2 separate regions of the Homo sapiens genome follow, and region 1 is linked to region 2. The links come from fine-mapping of genetic effects on gene expression. A gene starts in region 2. The other region holds a variant in brackets. All regions are shown on one strand. Distances are from middle to middle.

What was found. PIP is the estimated chance that this variant, and not a neighbour inherited with it, causes the effect.
Region 1: its variant is fine-mapped to the expression of PLBD2 in whole blood (TOPMed, PIP above 0.99). The same link has a PIP of 0.9 or more in aorta and lung.

What each region holds. Positions count from the first base shown.
Region 1 is chr12:113,382,866-113,394,268 of GRCh38, forward strand. PLBD2 (phospholipase B domain containing 2) reads left to right here. Exons shown (of 12, transcript NM_173542.4): 7 at 1,240-1,400; 8 at 1,986-2,081; 9 at 2,347-2,418; 10 at 4,072-4,224; 11 at 4,879-5,041; 12 at 5,594-8,764. The coding sequence ends at 5,761. SDS (serine dehydratase) reads right to left here. Exons shown (of 8, transcript NM_006843.3): 7 at 11,027-11,151; 8 at 9,580-10,284. The coding sequence ends at 10,076. Among named protein-coding and RNA genes, the nearest start is that of SDS, 15 kb to the right of the region's middle. RefSeq lists an enhancer at 10,349-10,548. The variant C/G (reference allele first, on the strand shown) is at 5,772.
Region 2 is chr12:113,353,694-113,365,096 of GRCh38, forward strand. It overlaps PLBD2 (phospholipase B domain containing 2), which reads left to right and starts at 4,894. Exons shown (of 12, transcript NM_173542.4): 1 at 4,894-5,197. The coding sequence starts at 4,908. It overlaps LOC105369989 (a long non-coding RNA gene), which reads right to left and starts at 5,817. Exons shown (of 3, transcript XR_945346.3): 1 at 5,637-5,817; 2 at 1-75. RefSeq lists silencers at 4,708-5,207, 5,258-5,317 and enhancers at 5,653-6,152, 10,018-10,518.

The DNA of each region.
Region 1 (11,403 bases), 29 kb after region 2:
TGTTTTTTTTTTTTTTTTTTTTTTTAGATAGGCTCTCTCTCTGTTGCCCAGGCTGGAGTGCAGTGGCACGATCTCAGCTCACTGCAACCTTCGCTTCCAGGGTTCAAGTGATTCTCATGCCTCAGCCTCCGAATAGCTGGGATTACATGAGTTTTGTTTGGTTTGGTTTTTAACTCACAAGAACTAAGCTTTACTTTTCAAATATGCTGAAGGCAGCCAAGGGTTCCAGCAGGAAATGGAGAAGGGAGAGGAGGCAATCGGAGGCAGCGGTGGGCATCCTGCATGCCCCAAGGCTGGAGGGAGACTGAGGGCCTCTCCTGTTGTAAGGCCTCCTAGTCCTCTGACTGCTGCATCTGCCAGGCTGACAGCCTCAGGCCGTGCAACTTTTCCTGCAGAACTGTGGGAAAGGGGTGGGAATGGGAGGTTGCCCAGCTTGGTGAGGGAGTGGGTTCATGGGAGCGGCTCTTTGGGCCTCTCAGGGGCTGTTCACCAGGGCAAAGCTAGATGCATGATCCCAAATCCTCCTGCGTGCTTGTCCAAGGAACTGGTGGGGAACACGTGCCTCAACTGGATATGAGTTTTTATTTTTATTTATTTCTTCTTTTGTTACCCAGGCTGAAGTGCAGTGGCATGATCTGGGCTCACTGCAACCTCTGTCTCCTGGGTTCAAGTCATTCTCCTGCCTCAGCCTCTCCAGTAGCTGGGATTACAGGTGTATGCCACCACACCTGGCTAATTTTTGTATTTTTAGTAGAGACAGGGTTTTACCATGTTGGCCAGGCTGGTCTGGAACTCCTGACCTCAGGTGATCCACCTACCTTGGCCTCCCAAAGTGTGAGCCACCATGCCCGGCAGATTAAGTAAGTATTTAACACATGTAATCCCAGCACTTTGGGAGGCGGAGGTGGGCGGATCACTTGAGGTCAGGAGTTAGACCAGCCTAGCCAACATGGAGAAACCCTGCCTCTACTAAAAATACAAAAGTTAGCCAGGCGTGGGGGCACGTGCCTGTAATCCTAGTTACTAGGGAGGCTGAAGCACGAAAATTGCTTGAACTTGGGAGGCGGAGGTTGTAGTGGGCTGAGGTTACACCACTGCACTCCAGCCTGGGCAAGAGTGAGACTCTATCTCAAAAAAAAAAAAAAAAAAAAAAAATTTTTGGAGCCATGACTGATGAAGTACTGCCACTTGGTGGCAGCATGCCTAGGCTGTGCAGCAGCCCCCTTGACCTTCCCACAGGTGACACTGGAGACCACCATTGGCAACAAGAACCCAGCCCTGTGGAAGTATGTGCGGCCCAGGGGCTGTGTGCTGGAGTGGGTACGCAACATCGTGGCCAACCGCCTGGCCTCGGATGGGGCCACCTGGGCAGACATCTTCAAGAGGTTCAACAGCGGCACGTGAGTGGGCTTCTGGCCCTGTGGCTTCCCCTGCACCAAGAGATAGACCAACCTCCCCTTTAACACTCACACTCCTGGGGACCAGATGTGGCATCCGGGCCACACACCCCACGCCCTCCTTTGTTTCATACATGGGGAGACTGAGGCTAGGGAAGGAAAGGATTTGCCCCTCCCCTGCAGGCTCCTCAGCCTAGGAAGGGGTGCCTTGGTGGCAGTACAGGAAGAGCACTTGGAACCTGAAGACTCTCAAGGGGACAGTGGGGAGGGCTGTTTGAGGAGGTGGACGTGGGTGGGTGGCAGGGCCTGTGAGCCAGAGACACTGGAACTGGGCAGTGCAGATCTTACAGCATCCGGCAGAGGAGCTGACCTAGGGAGCCACAGAATATTCTGGAACAGTCAAGCAGCATGACGAGAGAGGGGTTTGTGGATACCTGGTCATGCTGCAGCGTCAGGGTGTCAGTTGAATGGCTGGACAACCCCAGGCCCACTTCCTGTAATTCCTAGCTGAGTGGGACACTGCAGGGTGGGGAAAGCTGGGGAGGTGGCTCCAGGCTCTGTTCAGTCCTCCCTTCCCCTGCCCGGCAGGTATAACAACCAGTGGATGATCGTGGACTACAAGGCGTTCATCCCGGGTGGGCCCAGCCCCGGGAGCCGGGTGCTTACCATCCTGGAGCAGATCCCGTGCGTACCCTGGGAGGGAGGGGTGGGGGCTCGGGGCAGAGGGGACTGCCAGGGTGAAGGCCCAGAGCCGTGCTGGCGCTGTGCAGGAAGTGAACGATCTCAGGAGGGTGTGGCTGGAAGAGAAGGTGTCCCTGGTGGGGGCTGAAGTTCAGGACTTAATCCATCCTCCAGGCAATGGGGAGCCATCGGGGCTCCCCGAGCAGGGCAGTGCCCACAGGAGCCCCTTTTCTGATCACCTCCACCCCATCTCTCTTCTCGGTCTCAGCGGCATGGTGGTGGTGGCTGACAAGACCTCGGAGCTCTACCAGAAGACCTACTGGGCCAGCTACAACATACCGTGCGTGCCTTCTCACTCCGCTCCCCGTCACCCTCCAGGGCATCCACCTCACTCCTTGCCCAGCTCCTTCCTAGGCAATGTTTTTAAACCCACAGAACAAAGAATCCCAGCCTACCCCCTTTTCTGGCCAGGAGAGCCCAGACAGTTTGGCAGTGTAGTTGCATGGCTTAAGTCAGCATCCATGTGACCTCTGGTTCTAACACCCAGAGCAGGGTGGTGTGGGGTGGCCAGGCTCAGGGACTGGCCCCTGCCAGGGTCTCTGACTGGATCTGCCTTACTGGGCTGTACAGCTGTCACCTCCTGAGGCTCACTTACTTTACCTGCATTTTCTCATTTGACTCTTAAAATTGCCACATGTGGTCACTAGAGTTCCTGTTCCCATCTCACAGATGATGAAACTGAGGCCCTGAGAAAGTACCTCACTTTCCCAAGCTTCCCCTGTTGGCGAATGGTGAAGGCAGGATTTGTTTTTTGTTTTTTGTTTTGAGACAGAATCTTGCCCTGTCACCCAGGCTGGAGTGCAATGGTGCAATCTCAGCTCACTGCAGCCTCCGCCTCCTGAGCTCAAGTGATTCTCCTGCCTCAGCCTCCTGAGTAGCTGGGATTACAGGCGCCAGCCACCATCCTTGGCTAATTTTTCTATTTTCAGTAGAGACAGGGTTTCACCATGTTGGCCAGTCTAATCTCAAACTCCTGACCTCAAGTGATCCGCCTGCCTTGGCTTCCCAAAGTGCTGGGATTATAGGCATAAGTCACCACACCCGGACTGAAGGCAGGATTTGATGCCATGCCTTTTGGGCCCCAGAGCCCAAGCTTGGCCACCCCACCAAGCCACCCCCCAGCACAAATGGAAGACATTATTGTTATCCCGAATGTCATAGTTGGTTTTGTTGTTGTTGTTGTTGTTTGTTTGTTTGTTTTTAGAGACAGAGTCTCGCTCTGTCACCCAGGCTGGAGTGCAATGGTGCGATCTCAGCTTGCTGCAACCTCTGCTTCCCGGGTTCAAGCGATTCTTGTGCCTCAGCCTCCCAAGTAGCTGGGATTACAGGCACGTGCCACCACGCCGGCTAATTTTTTTTTTTTTTTTTGAGACGGAGTCTCGCTGTGTCGCCCAGGCTGGAGTGCAATGGTGCGATCTCAGCTTGCTGCAACCTCTGCTTCCCGGGTTCAAGTGATTCTTGTGCCTCAGCCTCCCAAGTAGCTGGGATTACAGGCACGTGCCACCACGCCGGCTAATTTTTTTTTTTTTTTTTTGAGACGGAGTCTCGCTGTGTCGCCCAGGTTGGAGTGCAATGGCTCGATCTCAGCTCACTGAAACCTCCACCTTCCAGGTTCAAGTGAGTACATGCCTCAGCCTCCCGAGTAGCTGGGATTACAGGCACACACCACCGTGCCTGGCTAATTTTTGTATTTTTAGTGGAGACAGGGTTTCACCATGTTGGCCAGGCTAGTCTCAAACTCCTGAGCTCAGGTGATCTGCCCGCCTCGGCCTCCCAAAGTATTGGGATTACAGGTGTGAGCCACTGCACCCAGCCTGAATGTCGTAGTTGTAAGTAATAATGTCCTGGTGTGACTGCCCCTCCCCTCCCTGGCCACAGCCTTGGCTGAGTGAGGCCAGTGGGGGTCATGGGTGACCATCCTTGTCCCCGGCAGGTCCTTCGAGACTGTGTTCAATGCCAGTGGGCTGCAGGCCCTAGTGGCCCAGTATGGGGACTGGTTTTCTTATGACGGGAGCCCCCGGGCCCAGATCTTCCGGCGGAACCAGTCACTGGTACAAGACATGGACTCCATGGTCAGGCTGATGAGGTAGGTGCCAGTTGGGTGGTGGGTTGGGGAGAGGGAGGCCGCAGGAACACAGAACTTCCTGTGCGCTTTTTGTACCAACTCATTCAAACTTTGCTGCCAGCCCCAGAGGGCCAGCAGGGGGTGGTCAGATGTTGGACACCAGTGCAGCAGCTCGGTGGCCGCTCTCCACTTGGGCCCTGTCACTGTCCTCATAGCTAAGGGGAGGATGCTAGACATCTGTTGAGTGACCTGTACTGCTAGGCACTATGCTTGGTACCAGGAGCAACAGGTAGAAAACCTGTGCCCCACTGTCCTGTCTCTTGGGCGGTGCAGAAATCCATCAAGTTCTTGCACTGGTGTCAATGTGTAAAGATGGCTGTGTTCCAAGAGAGGCTATCCAGGAACAAACGGGTGCCTCACCTGGCTGGGGTGGTGGCATGGAGGCCTTCCCTGAGGATGAGTGCCTGAGCAGAGAGCTGAATAATGAAGGCAGAGTGACTTAGGTGAAGGGGTCCGGGCCCCAGGCAGAGGAACTGTCGGGGGTAGTGTGCAGTGGGAGGGGCTCATCAAGTTGAAGGCTGGCAGCTGTTAACGGGGCTGCCTGTGAGGATTTTGGCCCCCGTCTTAGCCTCTCCTTCCTGGGATGACTGATGTTCCCTCCTTTTCCCCATCCAGGTACAATGACTTCCTCCATGACCCTCTGTCACTGTGCAAAGCCTGCAACCCCCAGCCCAATGGGGAGAATGCTATCTCCGCCCGCTCCGACCTCAACCCGGCCAATGGCTCCTACCCCTTCCAGGCCCTGCGTCAGCGCTCCCATGGGGGTATCGATGTGAAGGTGCTGCCTCCTCCCTAGGGCCTGAGCTGTGGGTGGGGGAAGTCACCATCACCAGCTTTGGGGAAGGGACAGGTTGGGGCAAAGCTGATGGCGGGGCAGGAATCACAGTCGGAATTGGGCTGTGGTTGGGGTCACAGTAAAGGTGACAGTATGGGCTGGGCACGGTGGCTCATGCCTGTAATCCCAGCACTTTGGGAGCCCAAGGTGGGCAGATCACTTGAGGTCAGGAGTTTGAGACCAGCCTGGCCAACATGGTGAAAACCCGTCTCTACTAATAATACAAAAATTAGCTAGGCGTGGTGGCGGGCGTCTGTAATCCCAGCTACTCAGGAGGCTGAGGCATGAGAATTGCTTGAACCCGGGAGGCAGAGGTTGCAGTGAGCCAAGATCACGTCACTGCACTCCAACCTGGGTGACAGAGCAGAGACTCAAAAAAAAAAAAAGTGACAGTTCAGAATTGGGCTCTGGGGTCAAGGTCAGGGTGGGAGGCTGGGTGCCTGGATTGGGGCAGGCCAGGACCCCTGCTCAGCTGCGGCTCTGCCCTGTCCCCAGGTGACCAGCATGTCACTGGCCAGGATCCTGAGCCTGCTGGCGGCCAGCGGTCCCACGTGGGACCAGGTGCCCCCGTTCCAGTGGAGCACCTCGCCCTTCAGCGGCCTGCTGCACATGGGCCAGCCAGACCTCTGGAAGTTCGCGCCTGTCAAGGTTTCATGGGACTGAAGTTCTGTCC[C/G]TGCTCTGCTGCTTTCGCCCCTGCTGACCCTCGTCAGGGTCACCCCCGTCCCAAGGCCACCGGACTTCTAACTCCAGCCCCTCCTGGGGGCTTCGTTCTCTGATCTGGGGTCTGAGTCATCTCCTCCTAGAGTGGGTCACGAACCTGATGGGGCTCAGAACTGACCCCCTCTCTCCCCCGAGGTGGGTGGGCACCGTGGCGTCTCTTCTGCCCTGCCCTAAATCTCCCACTCTCTGTTTCTGTCTGTTTCCTACTGCTGCTCTCTCAACCTCATTCCCACCTCTGGGGCCCCTTCCTCGTGCTTCTCCTTCCTGAGGGTTTGGGAAGGTCCTGGGGCAGACTCTGGGGCTCCCATGGGGTGGAAGGAGCCTGTTCCAGCACCCTTCTCCCAGCTGCATTCCCACGGGTGGCCCTGGAGCTGGTGAGCTTTGTCTGGGCGTTGTCTTCGGCTGGCATTGCTCCTCCCAGCTCTGGCCCCTCTGCTCCCTCAGGAAGCAGTCCCCTCGTCTCCCTTTCTGGGCAGCTTCCTTGAGGACAGAAACTTGAAAACAAACACAAACCAAAGTTTCTGGCCATCTGTGGCTGGAGGGTTCTGAATGTCCTCTCTCCATGTCAGGCAGAGGGTCAGCCCCCATGCTTCTGCCTCAGGCCCCACCCCACCCCACCCCAGGCCTGCCCCTCACCTCAGGGCCATACCCACAGCGCCCTGATGGAGGAACCAGACCGCAGGCTGTGCCACCATTAAACAAGAGCGGCTGTGGCCCCATGCTGTGCTTCTTGGGGTGGCAGGGAAGGTGGGGTCAGCGCTTTTTCTCCTCTCAGGTTTGGGTTCTGCGCCATCCCCCATGCAGCCTCCTGTGCAGCCCTCTGTCTGTCCTTCTGTCCATTCATTCATCTGCCAACATACTCACCCATCATCCATCTGCACAGCCTTCCACCCACCCATCCGTCTTCCATCATCCATCCATCCATCTACCTATCCATTTATCATCCATCCACTCACCCATCCAACCACCCATCCAACCATTCAGCCATCTCCATCTGTCCATTTTCTTTCTTCTTCTTTTTTTTTTGTTTTTGTTTTTTCTGAGTGGGAGTTTCACTCTATTGCCCAGGCTGGAGTGCAATGGCATAATCTCTGCTCACTGCAACCTCTGCTTCCTGGGTTCAAGCGATTCTCCTGCCTTAGCTTCCCAAGTAGCTGGGGTTACAGGCATGAGCCACCATGCCTGGCTAATTTTGTATTTTTAGTAGAGACAGGGTTTCACCATGTTGGCCAGGCTGGTCTCGAACTCCTGGCCTCAAGTGATCCGCCCGTCTTGGCCTCCCAAAGTGCTTGGATTACAGATGTGAGCCCCCGCACCTGGCCTCATTTGTCCATTTTCCATCCACTTACCCACCCACCCATTTACTCATCCAGCCATTGACTCATCCATCCACCTATGAGATCAGACAGGGAGGGATCCTTTTTTGTATTGGTCTGTATACCACAGCATGGCTTACGAAGTTCTTATCTATCTATCACCCATCCACCCACCCATTTATCTACCCACCCATTCATCCACCCACCCATCCAACTACCTATCCATTCATCCATCCACCCATCTGCCAACGCATCCATCCATCCACCCACCCAATCATCTACCCACTCACCTATCCACCCATCCACCTACCTATTTGTCACCCATCCACCCATCCATCCATCCAATCACCCATCCAACCATCAATCCAACCATTTTCATCTGTTCATTTTCCATCCATCTACCCGTCCACCCATTCACTCCTCCATCCACCTACCTATCCATTTATCACCCATTTACCCATCCATCCATCCATCCTTCCAACCATTTATCCACCCATCCAAACATTTCCATCTGTTTTTCCATCCATCTACCCATCCACCCATTCACTCATCCATCCACCTTCCTATCCATTTATCATCCATCTACCCACTCACCCATCCATCCAACCTTCCAACCATTTATCCACCCATCCAACTATTTCCATCTGTTCATTTTCCACCCATTTACCCATCTACTAATTCACTCATCCATCCACCTACCTATCCATTTATCATCCATCTACCCACTCACCCATCCATCCATCCTTCCAACCATTTATCCACCCATCCAACCATTTCCATCTGTTCATTTCCATCCATCTACCCATCTACCCATTCACTCATCCGTCCACCTATCCATTTATCACCCATCTACCCATCCATCCACCCACTCATCCATCCATTCATCCATCCACCCACCCACCCGTCCATCCACCTACCTATTCATTTATCACCCATCCATCCACACACGGGTCTGTGCAGATTCATTAATATCCACCCATGCATCCATATTTATCTATTTTCTATCCATCAGCCATCCATTCATTCATATCCATCCATCCATCTATCCATCCAGATGTTTATTGAGCACCTGTGTTCTGGGTCCTATTTGGGAGCCTTGTTAACCACCAAGACCTTCCTAAGCCATATTGTGGTATACAGACAGATACAAAAAAAAAGGCTCTCTCCCTGTCTGATCTCATGCAGCCTGCCTTGGAGACAAGACTCTCCCAGTGCTGTGTGCTTGGAGAGAGGAAAGCACACAGCCCTGGAGTCAGAGACCTGGGTTTCAATTCTGTCTCCACCTCTTATTAGCTAGCTATGGACTCCTCTCTGAGCCTCGATTACCTCATCTGTGAAATGGGGTAATGGTGTGAGCAGCGTTTCCCTGGGGGATGTGATGCAGCCCACTTGGGGCCTCATGCACTCAGCATCTCTTTATTAGCAAACACTTATTGAACCCCTAGTACATGCCAGGCACTGTTATGAGGTCCCGGGGATACTTTATAACAAAAGGGACAGAAGCATTCCTGCTCTTGTGAAGTTTACATTGACTAGATAGTAAACAAAATAAATGAAATATGCAGTGTGTCAGTGCTGGTAAACCCGTGGAGAAAATAAAGCAAGGTTGGGGTCTGGGGTTGGGAATTGACTTGTGGTTTTATCTTATTTTCCTTTTTATTTATTTATTTATTTTTTGAGACGGAGTCTCACTCTGTCGCCAGACTGGAGTGTAATGGCACAATCCCGGCTCACTGCAACCTCTGCCTCCTGGGTTCAAGTTATTTTTCCTTTTTGTAGAGACAGAGTCTCACTGTGCCAACCAGCCTGGTCTTGAACTCCTGGGCTCAAGCGATCCTCCCACAGGCGTGAGCCACTGCGCCCAGCCCTGAGTGACTCTTAAACTTCAGTTTGAACTTGGGGTCATCCAGAAAGTACCCTGAGGGTGGGGTTCCCTCCATGCTCTGGAGCCAGCCCCAGTAATTCCTCTTTGATCTATGATACGGGCTTCAGCATATGCTTTTGTTGGAAGAGAGGGCTCCATGTTTGAGGAGGGTTTGCATGACATTGACTTCAAGTCCACCCACCCTTTCCCTCTCCCAGAGATGGGTGTCCAGTGTCAGCTCACACACGCCCAGGGGAGGGGGCCTCACTTCTTTGCTTCCATTGGGTCTGTGATGAAATAATTCTGACTTAGTAGGAAGGACTTCATATCAGAATGAAGTTGGCCTCCCCAGCTGCTTCTGCCTTCAGCGGAGGCAGCCTTTGTCCCACCCCAAGTCCCTCTTGTTTAGCCACCTGCTTCCTGTGGTACAGGGATGCCCCTGTCCTGGCATGCAAGACTAGCTGGAGTCAGGCTCCTGGCCTCACTCTGGGGCCCCAGTTGAGAGCTGGGGCTGAGAGCAGACTTGGGGTGGAAGGAAAGCAGGAAAGGAGACAGCTGATGATGGGAAAATGCACAGGATCTTTGTTTCATAAATATATTTTATTTTTCAATGAAAAAGTTTGCACATTAGAAAAATTAGTAAGGGTCAGGGGTGGGCTTCCTGGGAGGATGGCTGAGATGGTTCCTCAACCCTGGTTGGTGGCCCTGTTGACCTTCACTGGGAACAAGTTCAGGGGCGAGGTCACAGCTTTGAGGAATTCCTCACTGCTGTGATTCAGGTCTCTCCTGTCCACCCTGCTCTGGGTACCTGGTGTGTTACTTGTGGGCACTTGTCACGCCAGCAAGTTGGCTAAGGATGGGCACAGAGCAGTCACACAGATACCAAAAAGGTCCAATTCATAGCCTCGCTGGCTGCCGACCTTTGGCCTCTGCATAGTGGGCTCCTGATAACAAGAAGTTAACCTGCACCCAGGCCACAGGTGCTCAGCCAAACATACGACGAGGCGCTGGATAAAACTCCAGCCCCTCCAGGGGTCTCTTGGGCTAGGAGAGCACAGATCGGTAAGGGGTCCGTCCTCACTTGGGCAACCTATTTGTCATGCCCAGCTGTTCCTTGAGCGCCCGCAGCTGGGCCAGGCTGATGTTGCTGCCCCCGCAGACGATGACCACGAGGGATGGCAGCGGGGTTCGGAGATTCCCCTCCAGTTGGAGCTTCTGGATCACGTGGCTATAGACAGCGGCCAGGGCTGCCCCGCAGGCGGGCTCCACCAGGATCTTCTCATCATCTGCCAGAGAAGGGGCGTGACAGGGGCGTGGCCTGAGTTTCCCAGGGTGCACAGGAGCTGACAGGCCATTGGCAGGACCTGGGAATACTGAGCCAATCAGCTCTCAGCCCTGGCTGCAGCCGCAGGTCCTGAACCAAACGTCCCGTCATCGGCCTGAATTGGCCCTTCCAAGCCTGAGCCAGGGCCTGGGTTTCATCATGAGTGCTAACACTGATAGAATGAGTGTGGTTGCGTGAGCACTGTGTTGAGAAGGATTCTGAGGCATCATCTGAGCAAGAGTTCCATGGTTGATTAGCCAAGTGTGCAGCAGGTACAGAAGCATAAATGGTACTATTTTTTTCTCTCTTTTTTGCCATCCCTGCCCTAGACGGAACCCAGAAAGAGTCCAGCCTAGTTACAGACTCACCTCTGAATGAATCAAACTCTGAGCCCCATGTTTTCCTTTTTTTACCCTGGCTGCCAGGAAACTCAGAAGCAACATTTTAAATATTCACTTATTGTTTTCTGCTGCTATGGTTATCAGGCTTACTTTTCTATTTACTTTTCCATTATGTGTGGCTTTTGCTTTTCTATTTCTACACGGCATTGTATTATCTTCTATTAATGGAAAATTCTAGGCAGAGGTGGAAGACAGAACTGTGAAGGAAACTTGGGGTGAGTGGGATCCCCAGTGGCATACCAAGTGGACAGCCACTTAGCGCCTGAGTCAGCAGGTCAGGTCATGGGAGGACCTGGCACATACCCACGAACTTCTCAATGGCGGCCACAGCCTCCTGGTCCGAGATAACTTCAGAGAAAATGGGGTGTTCCTGAAACAGCTTCAGGGCCTGAGCCCCCACAGTCTTCACGCCCAGGGCCTTGGCAACACTGAGAGAAGTGGGAACCCAGAAGAGGATGGGAGTGGGGGAAACAGGAGAGAGATGGGGGCAGGGAGGGAGAGAAGGAGATGGATGTGAGACAGAGAAGGCAATGCATCTGGGGGCAGGGGGACAGGTATCACCTCTGCAGCTGTAAAACCCTGAAAAGCCTCAGGGATCCCCAAACCAAGTGGGGTCTTCTAATAAGGTGCAGAGTGTTTGAATTGACATCATATAGTATATTCTTTAGTATCATTTTTTT
Region 2 (11,403 bases):
GTTGAAGAACTGTGTTAAAAAGTTACTTGGGGCCAGACGCAGTGGCTCACACCTGTAATCCCAGCCGAGATCAGTCTTAAAAAAAAAAAAAAGGTAGTTGGGTTACTTCTCCCCAGACCCCCATTCCTTTTAGTGTGCTTATGTTTATTTAAATACAGTCAGGATTATTTGTTTCTCTTTGTGTTCATCTTTAGGGGTTTTCTCCATTCTATTGAGTTGAATGGATTTTTTTGTTTGTTTGTTTTCAGAGACAGGGTCTCACTATGTTGCCCAGGCTGGTCTTGAACTCCTGGGCTCAAGTGATCCTCTCACCTCAGACTCCCAAAGTGCTGAGATTACAGGCATGAGCCACTGTGCCCAGCCTCTTCATTCTCTTTTTTTTTTTTTTTTTTTTTTGAGATGGAGTCTCACTCTGTCACCTGGGCTGGAGTGCATTGGTGTGATCTTGGCTCACTGCAACTTCCGCCTTCTGGGTTCAAGTGATCCTCCTGCCTCAGCCTCCCGAGTAGCTGGGACTACAGGCGCCTGCCACGATGCCTGGCTAATTTTTGTATTTTTAGTAGAAATGGGGTTTCCTCATATTGGCCAGGCTGATCTTGAACTCCTGACCTTGTAATCCACCCGCCTCGGCCTCCCAAAGTGCTGTGATTACAGGCGTGAGCCACTGCACCCGGCCTCATTCTTTTTTATAGCTGCATAGTATTCCATTTCCCAGCTGTTGTGTGGTTTATTTAATGAAGCTTCTATGTATGGGCTTGAAAGTGTTTCCAACAGTTTAAAATTACAAACAATGCTGCAATAAATAACCTTATGGATAAATACTTAGAGGTGGGATTGCTGGGTCAGAGGTAGATGCCCTTGGTGTTTTGTTAGACATTACTCTTCCTGTCTTTTGCATACCCACTAGCAACGTGCATGTGCCTGTTTCTCCAGGCTCACCAACAGGGTATGTTGTCAAGCTTCTAAACTTTTTTTTTTTAATCTCATAGAAAGAAATGATATCTCAGTGTAGTTTATTTAAAGTTTTTTTTTTTGTTTTTTTTTTTGAGAGGGAGTCTTGCTCTGTCACCCAGGCTGGAGTGCAGTGGTGCGATCTCAGCTCACTGCAACCTCCGCCCCCGGGGTTCAAGCGATTCTCCTACCTCAGCCTCCCGAGTAGCTGGGATTACAGGCATGCTGTAATTTTTTTTTGTATTTTTAGTAGAGACGGGGTTTCACCATCTTGGCCAGGCTGGTCTTGAACTCCTGACCTCATGATCCACCCGCCTCGGCCTCCCAAAGTGCTGGGATTACAGGCGTGAGCCACTGTGTCCGGCCCTAAAGTTTTTGTTTTTGAAAACATGTACTCTTTATCTAGTTTCTCCCAGTGATAACAACTTATGTAACCAGAGTATAAATATCAAAATCAGGAAATTGACTTTGATATGGAACTTTTTTTTTAACTTTTAAAAATTTTTTGAGACAGGGTCTCACTCTGTTACCTAGGCTGGAGTGCAGTGATACAATCTCAGCTCACTGCAACCTCCGCCTCCCAGGTTCAAGCAATTCTCGTGCCTCAGCCTCCCGAGTAGCTGAGATTACAGGCGTGTGCCACCATGCCCAGATAAATTTTTTTTGGATTTTTAGTAGAGATGGGGTTTCACCATCTTGCTCAGGCTGCTCTTGAACTCCTGAGCTCAAGCGATCCTCCCACCATGGCCTCCCAAAGTGCAGGGATTACAGGCATGAGCCCCCGAACCCGGCCTGATATGGTACTTTAAATTACAAATCCCAGCACTTTGGGAGGCCATGGTGGGAGGATCGCTTGAGCCCAGGAGTTTGAGACCAGTCAAGCAACAAAGTAAGACTCCATCTCTTCAAAAACTCAAAAAAATTAACCAGGTGTGGTGGTGCATGCCTGTAGCCCAGCTACCTAGGAGACTTAGGTGAGAGAATCACTTGAGCCTGAAAGATTGAGGCTACAGTGAGCTATGATTGCACCACTGCATCCCAGCCTGGACGACAAAGTGAGACCCTGTCTCAAACCCAAGAAAACAAAAATCAAAAAACTAAATTACAGACCTTATTTCAGCAGTCTTTACATGCACTCTATTTTCACTGTATATTTCTTACTTCTTCTCCTTCTCCTTCTTCTGGACAGAGTCTCACTCTGTCGCCCAGGCTGGAATGCAGTGGCATGATCTCGGTTCACTGCAACCTCCACCTCCCAGGTTCAAGCGAATTTCCTGCCTCAGCCTCCCCAGCAGCTGGGACCACAGGCACATGCCACCACCCGGCTAATTATTTTGTATTTTTAGTAGAGATGGGGTTTCACAATGTTGGTCAGGCTGGTCTTGAACCCCTGACCTCACGTGATCTGCCTGCCTCGGCTTCCCAAAGTGCTGGGATTACAGACATGAGCCACTGCACCTGGCCTCTTCTTTTTTGAATGGTTAAGTATAGAGTTTGTTTTCACCCGAAGATTGAGGTTGGGCACTTAGGAGCATCGCTTCATGTTACCCTGAATGTACCATTCAGGGTATACGCTCTCTCACCATATATTTCTCTGAATGTTTATTTTCAGTGTAGCTTTAATTTGCATTTCTCCTATAGTGAATGAAGCAAGCATTTTTCATAAATATAATGGTCACTTCTACATCTTTGTTCATGAATTATTTGCTGATGCTTTTTGCCCATGTTTTCTGTCTGGTTTTCACATTTTCCTTCTCAAACCTTTTCTTTCTTTCTTTCTTTCTTTCTTTCTTTCTTTCTTTCTTTCTTTCTTCCTTCCTTCCTTCCTTCCTTCCTTCCTTCCTTCCTTTCTTCCTTCCCTTCCTTCCCTTTCCCTCCCTCCCTCCCTTCCTTCCTTCCTTTTCTCTCTCTTTCTCTCTCTCTCTCTCTCTTTCCTTTTTGACAACTTCTTGCTCTGTTGCCCAGGCTGTAGTGCAACTCACTGTAGCCTCGACTTCCTAGGCTCAAGCAATCCTCCCCCCTCGGCCTCCCAGTAGCTGGGACTGAGGCAGAAATTAAAATAATAATAATAATAAGTACTACATATATTCACTCCAAGAGAAGTAAGAGCTAAGGCCCAGAATGTGGCAAGGCAAGGGTTAAAAAAGAAGAAGAACAAGTTTTCCTCTGCTTAGCAGCTCACTTCAAGGACAGTTATAAGATAACGCTGTCCGAAAAGCCAAGGCCAGAGGACTGGGCTCCAGACCCCGCCCTCCACCCCACCGCCCGCCTCCAGAGCAAGGTTGAAGGAAAAAAAAGAGAGAAAGACAAATTATTTTATTGCTATTCCTTTCCTTGGTCTCTTAAGCATGACTATGTTTTACAAACCTCTCTATTTAGCCAGTTCTTGTTTTACTTTTGATGCAGCTACAAGGCCACCAGCTATGCAAGGCCACAAGTTATGCACTATATGATTAACTACTTTTGTTTTACCTTTCTAAGCTTGCTTATAAAAACCCCACAATATCTTTGTTCTAGGCTCAGCTTTTTGGATGTGAATCCACTGAGCCAGTGCGTACGTTGAAATAAACATCCTCCTGTTCTCTCATATTGGTCTCTCCGTTCCTCAGTTTCCCACAACAGGACTACAGGTGTGCACCACCAAGCTCAGCTAATTTTTATATTTTATAGAGACAGAGTCTTGCCAGGTTTCCTAGGCTGGTCTCAAACTCCTGGGCTCAAGCATTCCTCCCACCTTGGCCACCCAAAGTGCTGTGATTACAGGCATGAACCACTCACCTGGCCTTCCCTCTCAAATTTTAAGAGTTCCTGATATATTATATGATATATGTTGAGATATATATACATATATATATGTAATGTATATATATGATATATGTTGCAAATAGTTTCTCCTGGTCTGTCAGATGTCTTTTGACTTTGCTTATTGAGTTTTTTGACATGAAAAAGTTAAAAAATTTATACAGTCAAATGCATTAATCTTTTATTGCATCTAGGTTTTTTTTTTTTTTTTTTTCTTTTGAGACAAGGTCTCATTCTGGTTGCTCAGGCTGGAGTGCAGTGGTGCAATCTCGACTCTCTGCAGCCTCGACCTTCCGGGCTCAGGTGATTTTCCTACCTCAGTCTCCCGAGTAGCTGGGACTATAGGCGCGCCTCACTGCGTCCGGCTACTTTTTTGTATTTTTAGTAGAGACGGGGGTTTCACCATGTTGCCCAGGCTGGTCTTGAACTCCTGAACTCGCCCGCCCTGGCCTCCTGGAGTGTTGGGATTACAGGCGTGAGCCACCGCGCCCGACGGCATCTAGGTTTTGAGTAGTAGTTAGACAGCTTTTTCCCACACACATGTAAAAAGGGTATTTGAGGGACAATGGGAAAAGTTGGAATAAAGACTGCATTAGATAACTGTATTAAATAAATGGCAAATACCATTAAATAAATCTGGCCGGGCGCGGTGGCTCACCCCTGTAATCCCAGCACTTTGGGAGGCTGAGGCAGGCGGATCACCTGAGGTCAGGAGTTCAAGACCAGCCTGGCCAACATGGCGAAACCCCGTCTGTACTGAAATTACATAAATCAGCTGGGCGTGGTGGTGCGCGCCTGTAATCCCACCTACTCAGGAGGATGAGGCAGGAGAATCGCTTGAACCCGGGAGGCGGAGGTGGCAATGAGCCGAGATCGCGTCACTGCACTCCAGTCTGGGCGACATATGGAGGTTTTGTCTTGTCTCAAAAAAAAAAAAAAAAAAAAACTTGGGGAAGTGTGCTAAACCGGGTTTGCGTAGGTGGAAGGGGCGGCCGGGCTCTTTAAGGTGGGTCCCGCCCCGTAGGCCTCCCCTCGCGCCAGCCCCTCCCATCCCGGAAAGGCTCAGCCCAAGCCCGGCCCCGCCCGCCCTCGGCCCCGCCCATGGCAGAGCGCAGTCACGTGACCCGGGCTGCGGGGCGCAGCATTGTGCGGTCATGGTGGGCCAGATGTACTGCTACCCCGGCAGCCACCTGGCCCGGGCGCTGACGCGGGCGCTGGCGCTGGCCCTGGTGCTGGCCCTGCTGGTCGGGCCGTTCCTGAGCGGCCTGGCGGGGGCGATCCCAGCGCCGGGGGGCCGCTGGGCGCGCGATGGGCAGGTCCCTCCAGCCTCCCGCAGCCGCTCGGTGCTCCTGGACGTCTCGGCGGGCCAGCTGCTTATGGTGGACGGACGCCACCCTGACGCCGTGGCCTGGGCCAACCTCACCAACGCCATCCGCGAGACTGGGTAAGGGTTGGCTTATCCCCACGCGGGGCCATCGGGGGAGGGGGATGCGTGGGCGCCGGACCTCGCCTGTTCCCGGGACCGGCCTCTTGCCGGGTGGGAACGCCCGTTTCTCTGGGGGTCAGCTACTCCCGAGGCTGCAGCACCGCCCTGCGGGCCAAGTACCCTGTTTGGGAGCTGGCTACTGCGGCATCCCTCACCTCATGGGGCCAGTCCCTTGCCTTCAGCCAGTGGTGACAGTACTTCTGTCCCCAAGAAGCCAGTTCCCTACCACCGAGGCCGCAGTGCCTGCATCTGGATCAGGTCCATGGCTGGTGGGTAAATTCTATCCTCACGGGGACCTGCTCCCTTCCCTAGACTTTGCCTCCTCACCCCATGGAGGCCAGCCCCCTGTCCCCAGGCCTGAGGGGTGATGAGAACTCAGCAGGAGACTAATTCTTACCTGCTTGGCTGTGGCTTGCTCGTGGGTGCCAGCACCCTGCCTCCCTTCCAGTGCCAGGTCAGCAGGACTGAACCTGGGTTCCAGGCTAGTCCAAAAGCAGAGGGTCCCTAAAGTCACATAGACCCATTTAGTATCCTGCTAGGGCTCTGCTCCTCCCTTGTCTTCTGTGTCCTGGTCCAAGGGGAAGTCCTTGGCTGGATGCCGTGTTTGGCAGCCATGCTCACCATCTTTATTGCTGGAACCCAGGCTGTCATTCTGATGTGTGAGTCTCACCTAACTCCTCCGCCTGTCTGGGCTCCCGTTTCCCCATCTGTGGCCCAGATTTTGAGGATGTGCTCTAGTTGGGTGGTCATGTGCTGCAAGTTCTGTACAAGGGCTTGTGCCCATTCATTTATTCATTACCCTGATGGTTGGCCTTAGGGACACAGCTGAGCAGCTGTCTCTACTCAGTGGGAAACACAGACAGCGATAGAAGAGAAATCAGAGTCAGTGGGAGTGGGAAGGATCAGCTTCAAAGCCTTGTCAGCAGGGCCCAGACGCTGGATCAGGCTGTGCTGGGGGATCCTAGGGAACCCGGGGTGCATCCGTCATATCCTAGTGTCCAGATGATGCTAGGGAACCCTAGCACTAGGATGTGCCCAGGATGTGGTCTGTGCTCAGACCACACTGCCCCCTGCAGCAGAAAGGGCCTCCTCCCACTTTAGCCCCTATCCATTTTACTGGCATCCATTGGCTTCTGCAGGTGTTAGGGAGACACAGGATGCCGAGGACACCCCCATTCTGGTGGCACTTGGGGGGTACATCAAGTAGACGTGAGATTTGGGGGAGATATTTGCACAGACACAGGGGCACTGGTTGGGGTAAATCTGGGAAGGCTCCCAGAGAGAGGAGGCCACAGAGTGAGCTGGCATCTGTGGAGGGAACTGAAGCTTTGTGGCTGGCCTCGGGGGCTGCCGGGACTCTTGGATCTGGTGACCCGTTCTTTGCTGACTCACTCATGTTTTTGGCCCTGCATAGCAGAATCAAGAGGACATGACAGAACTGTTCAGGCGAGGAGGGGCAGGAGCGAGGCCCAGCATGGGGAGGGGGCTTTGGCCTCTGGAGGCCCCTCCTGGGCTGTGTTGCTCTTGACTATGGTAAACATGGAAGTGGAGAGAAGGCTTCCTTGATTGTGCTGGATGGAAAGTTCTTCCAGGCTCAGCCCCTCTGCTGTGTGACCTTGGGCAAATCCCTTCACCTCTCTGAGCATGTTCCCTCATATCAAGGTAGGACCAAAAGGGTCATGGAAATTCACTGGGGTCACAGAAAGCACTGTTTATTTATTTTTATTTGTATTTTATTTTTTGAGACACAGTTTCACTCCGTTGCCCAGCTGGAGTGCAGGGGCACGATATTGGCTCACTGCAACCTCCCCACCCTGGGTTCAAGCGATTCTCGTGTCTCAGCCTCCCAAGTAGCTGGAATTACAGGTGTGTGCCACCATGCCCGGCTAATTTTTGTATTATTAGTAGAGATGGGGTTTCACCATGTTGGCCAGGCTGGTCTCAAACTCCTGACTTCAGGTGATCTGCCCATCTTGGACTTTCTGGCTTGTTTTCGGCACCCTCTCTCATCCCCTCCTCTTACGCTCACATGCCCCTTTCCCTTTGAGTTTGCCAGCCCTTGAGGCTCTGATGCAGGGAAAACCATAAAGCGAGCCCCATTTTATAGGCAGGAAACTGAGGTCCTCAGAGACAGCTGCTTGAGGACTCAGGGTCAGATGAAAGAAAGCCATAGGGGGTGTCCTGGCTCCTGATCAGCAGAATCTCTGATCTGTGGGGGACTCTGTGTCTTATTTCGGAGGGTGGGGGCAGGGATTTGATGCCTCTGTTCACTCAGAATTAGGATCCTCCTCCTTCCTGGTGAAATCCCCAGATTTTGCCACTGGGGATCCTGGGATTATCAGGATAAATTCTCCCTACACCATAATCCTTCGTCTTTTTTATTTTTTAAAAAAGGTTTTTTTTTTTTTGTTTTTTTTTTTTTTTTGAGACAGGGTCTCCCTGTGTTATCCAGGCTCGAGTGCAGTGGTATGATCATGGCTCACTGCAGCCTTGAACTCCCAGGCTCAAGAAATCCTCCGACCTCGGCCTCCCAAGTAGCTGGGACTATAGATACGCACCCCCATGCCTGGCTAATTTTTAAATTCTTTTTTTTTGTAGAAACAGGGGTCTTGTCATGTTGCCCAGGCTGGTCTTGAACTCCTGGGCTCAAGTGATCCTCTCACCTTAGCATCCCCAAATGTTGGGATTACAGATGTGAGCCACTGTGCTCGGTACCTTCTTTCAGTTGTGCCATATCTTGACTTTGGGCCAACACCCCCACACAGCCTGGAAACATTTATGATTTGGTGCTTGGAGATCAGAGATGTCACTAGGAGCAGAGCCTGCCTCAGTCTAGCTCTGGCCTTGGTCCTGGGGAAGCTGTATCCTCCAACCTTACTTTGTCTTCCTTCCCTGATCTGATCCCACTGACCAGCACCTTATCGACGAGGTTGCTTAAAGTAAATCACCATCCCGTTGAGAGAGGAAGTGAATCAAAGTTAGAGGGAATTAACAAATTTAGTAAACGGGGAAGCATCCCAAATCCACCAACCAACAGGCAAAAACAGCCCAGTAAAATGGATAAATAAGGCCCAGCTGTTTCTTTGAACAATCACAGGAGATGAATCTATACCATCAAGAATGAGAAAGGAGGACAGGCGCTGTAGCTCATGCCTGTAATCCCAATGTTTTGGGAGACCGAGGCAGGAGGATGGCGAGGGGCCAGGATTTCGAGACCAGCTTGGGCAATGTGGTGAAACCCTGTCTCTGCAAAAAAAAAGTAAAAAATTAGCTGGGTGTGGTTGCGCATGCCTGTGGTCCCAGCTACTCGTTTGAGCCTGGGAAGTCGAGGCTGCAGTCAGCTGTGATTGTGCCACTGCACTCCAGCCTGGGCAACAGAGTGAGACCCTGTCTCAAATAAAAAAAAAAAAAGGCTGAGATAGGAGTGATAGACACAGTTATGGGGGGCATCCCACATAATGGAGAGCATCCAAGGCCATACTAGACTGCGGAAGTGGGGTGCTGATATTTGTGAGATATTTGTGGCCCCCTGCTCATATCAGTGGTCTGACTTTTTCCAATGTGGCCTCTTTCAAGAGGCACCTTGATTAGACTCTTGAGTCATCTTAGAGACATTAGCTGCCCCTGGCATGAAATTGCAATTTGGCCCATAGATTTTCCAGGAAAAAAAAAAAAAGATTGAGGAAACAGACCTACTGCTGCCAACTTTTAATTTTTGTCAAGCAAGTGCATTAAAAACAAAGGAGAGCAATATTTGTCAACCCCTGTCAGCGTTTATCTCATAAAAGATTGGCAATTTTAGAGCAAACAAGCAGAAAGGACATACTCTCTGAATAAGGAGTAATCTTCTTTTGATTTATTTTTTTTTTTTGAGATAGAGTCTGCTCTGTTACCCAGGCTGGAGTGCAGTGGCATGATCTTGGCTCATTGCAACCTCCGCCTCCTGGGTTCAAGTGATCTTCCTGCCTCAGCCTCCCTAGTAGCTGGGATTACAGGTGTGAGCCACTATACCCAGCTAATTTTTTTTTTTTTTTTGTAATTTTAATAGAGATGGGGTTTCACCATGTTGGCCAGGCTGGTCTTGAACTCCTGACGTCAGGTGATCTGCCCACCTCAGCCTCCCAAAGTGCTGGGATTACAGGTGTGAGCTATTGTGCCTGGCCGAAGAGTAGTCTTTAATAAGCACATCTAGTTATAGACACACTCTAAAGTGTTTTTCTGGCCGGGCGCTGTGGCTTGTGCCTGTAATGCCAGCACTTTGGGAGGCCGAGGCAGGAGGATTGCTTGAGCCCAGGAGTTTGAGACCAGCCTGGGCAACATGGTGAGACCCTATCTCTGCAAAAAATATAAAAAACTAGCTGGGCACGGTGGTGCGTGCCTGTAGTTCCAGCTACTCAGAAGCTGAGACGGGAGGACTGCTTGAGTCCAGGTGAGGCTACACTGAGCTGTGATCACGCCAGTGCACTCCAGCCTGGGTGACAGAGTGAGACCCTATCTCAAACAAAACAAAACAAAACAAATTTCTAGCAGTTTAGAAAGAGGGGATGGGATATGGGAAGTAAAAGCCTCCCCCTACCATTCTTCCTAGATATAAACATTTTTAGCTTTTTTTTTTTTTTTTTTTGAGGTGGAGTCTCGCCCTGTTGCCCAGGCTGGAGTCAGTGGCGCGATTTCGGGTCGCTGCAAGCTCCGCCTCCCGGGTTCACGCCATTCTCCTGCCTCAGCCTCCCGAGTAGCTGGGACTACAGGTGCCCGCCCCCACGCCCGGCTAATTTTTTGTATTTTTAGTAGAGACGGGGTTTCACCATGTTAGCCAAGATGGTCTCGATCTCCTGACCTCATGATCCACCCGCCTCAGCCTCCCAGAGTGTTGGGATTACAGGCGTGAGCCACTGCACCCGGACTTTTAGCTCTTTCTTCCAGAATTTTCTATGCATAAAGAGGCCTAAACCTTCTTGCATACATATAAATGTAGAGGCATATGTGGTGTGTGATGCATTTACACAGGGGCTTAGTTCGTGCCTACCATTTGGACTTCTCGACTTTTTTTTGAACTTCATCTCTGACCTCTTTGCTCATCAGCACATGCAGTCCGCTATGGCATGTGTGATTATTGTATCAGGCCCCTAATGATGGGTGTTTCGGGAAGGCCCGTCTTTTCTGGCTTTGAAGAGAAGTCCTGCTGTGAAGAAGGGCCTTTATGCCCATCTCTGCAGGGCTGTATGAGCATCCGGCCAGGGAATGGGTTCCTAACCACTGCCCGTCTCCGGGGCCTCAGTGCCGAGGCCTTGGCTGAGCCCACCCTTGCTAGAAGGGGTAGCTCTCACCAGGTGTGCCCTGGAGGAGGCCACTGGCCGCTCAGTTACTACTGGGGCTCGCGGCTGCACAGCTTTTTTGGTTTTACGCAGTTTGTCCGAGGTCTCCTTTGATCCACTGCCAGCTTTTATCACGAGGGGATCTGCATATTGGGCCCTGTTATAATCTTCCTCCCATCATCACACTCGCCGGGTCTCCTCAAACTCCTACCCCCTCAGATTCTTTTTTTTTTTTTAATGAGACAGCATCTTGCTCTATTGTCTGGACTGGAGTACAGTGGTGTGATCATAGCTCACTGCAGCCTGGGCTCAAGCGATCCTCCCATCTTAGCCCCAGCCTCCTGTGACTATAGGCAAGCACCACCACACCTGGTTAATTTATTTTGTATTTTTTGTAGAGAGGGGAGTCTCGCTTTATTGTCCAGGCTGGTCTCTTACTCCTGGTCTCAAGTGATCCTCCCACCTCAGCCTCCCAAAGCACTGGGGTTACAGGCATGAGCCACTGCGCCATCTCCTCTCAGATTCTTGATGAGACAAATACTTAGTGAGTGCATAATGTGTGTTCTCTCCTGGCACATGCCACAGCAGTCCTCTGAAGGGGGAGTCACTCTGCCCATTTTACAGATGAGAAAACCGAGGCCCCGAGAGGTAAAGCAGTTTGCCCAAAGGTACACAACCAGTAAGGGATCTACCCAGGGATTCAGACCAAGTCGGAGGGACCCACAAGCCCAAACTCTTTGTCTTCCATTCTCCTTGAAATTTAAAAATCTAATTTTTTCCCCTTGTTTTTTCCTCTGTCCTTATCTGTGATGCTATGTGAATAATTAGCCCGAAGTTCATGGCTGTCAT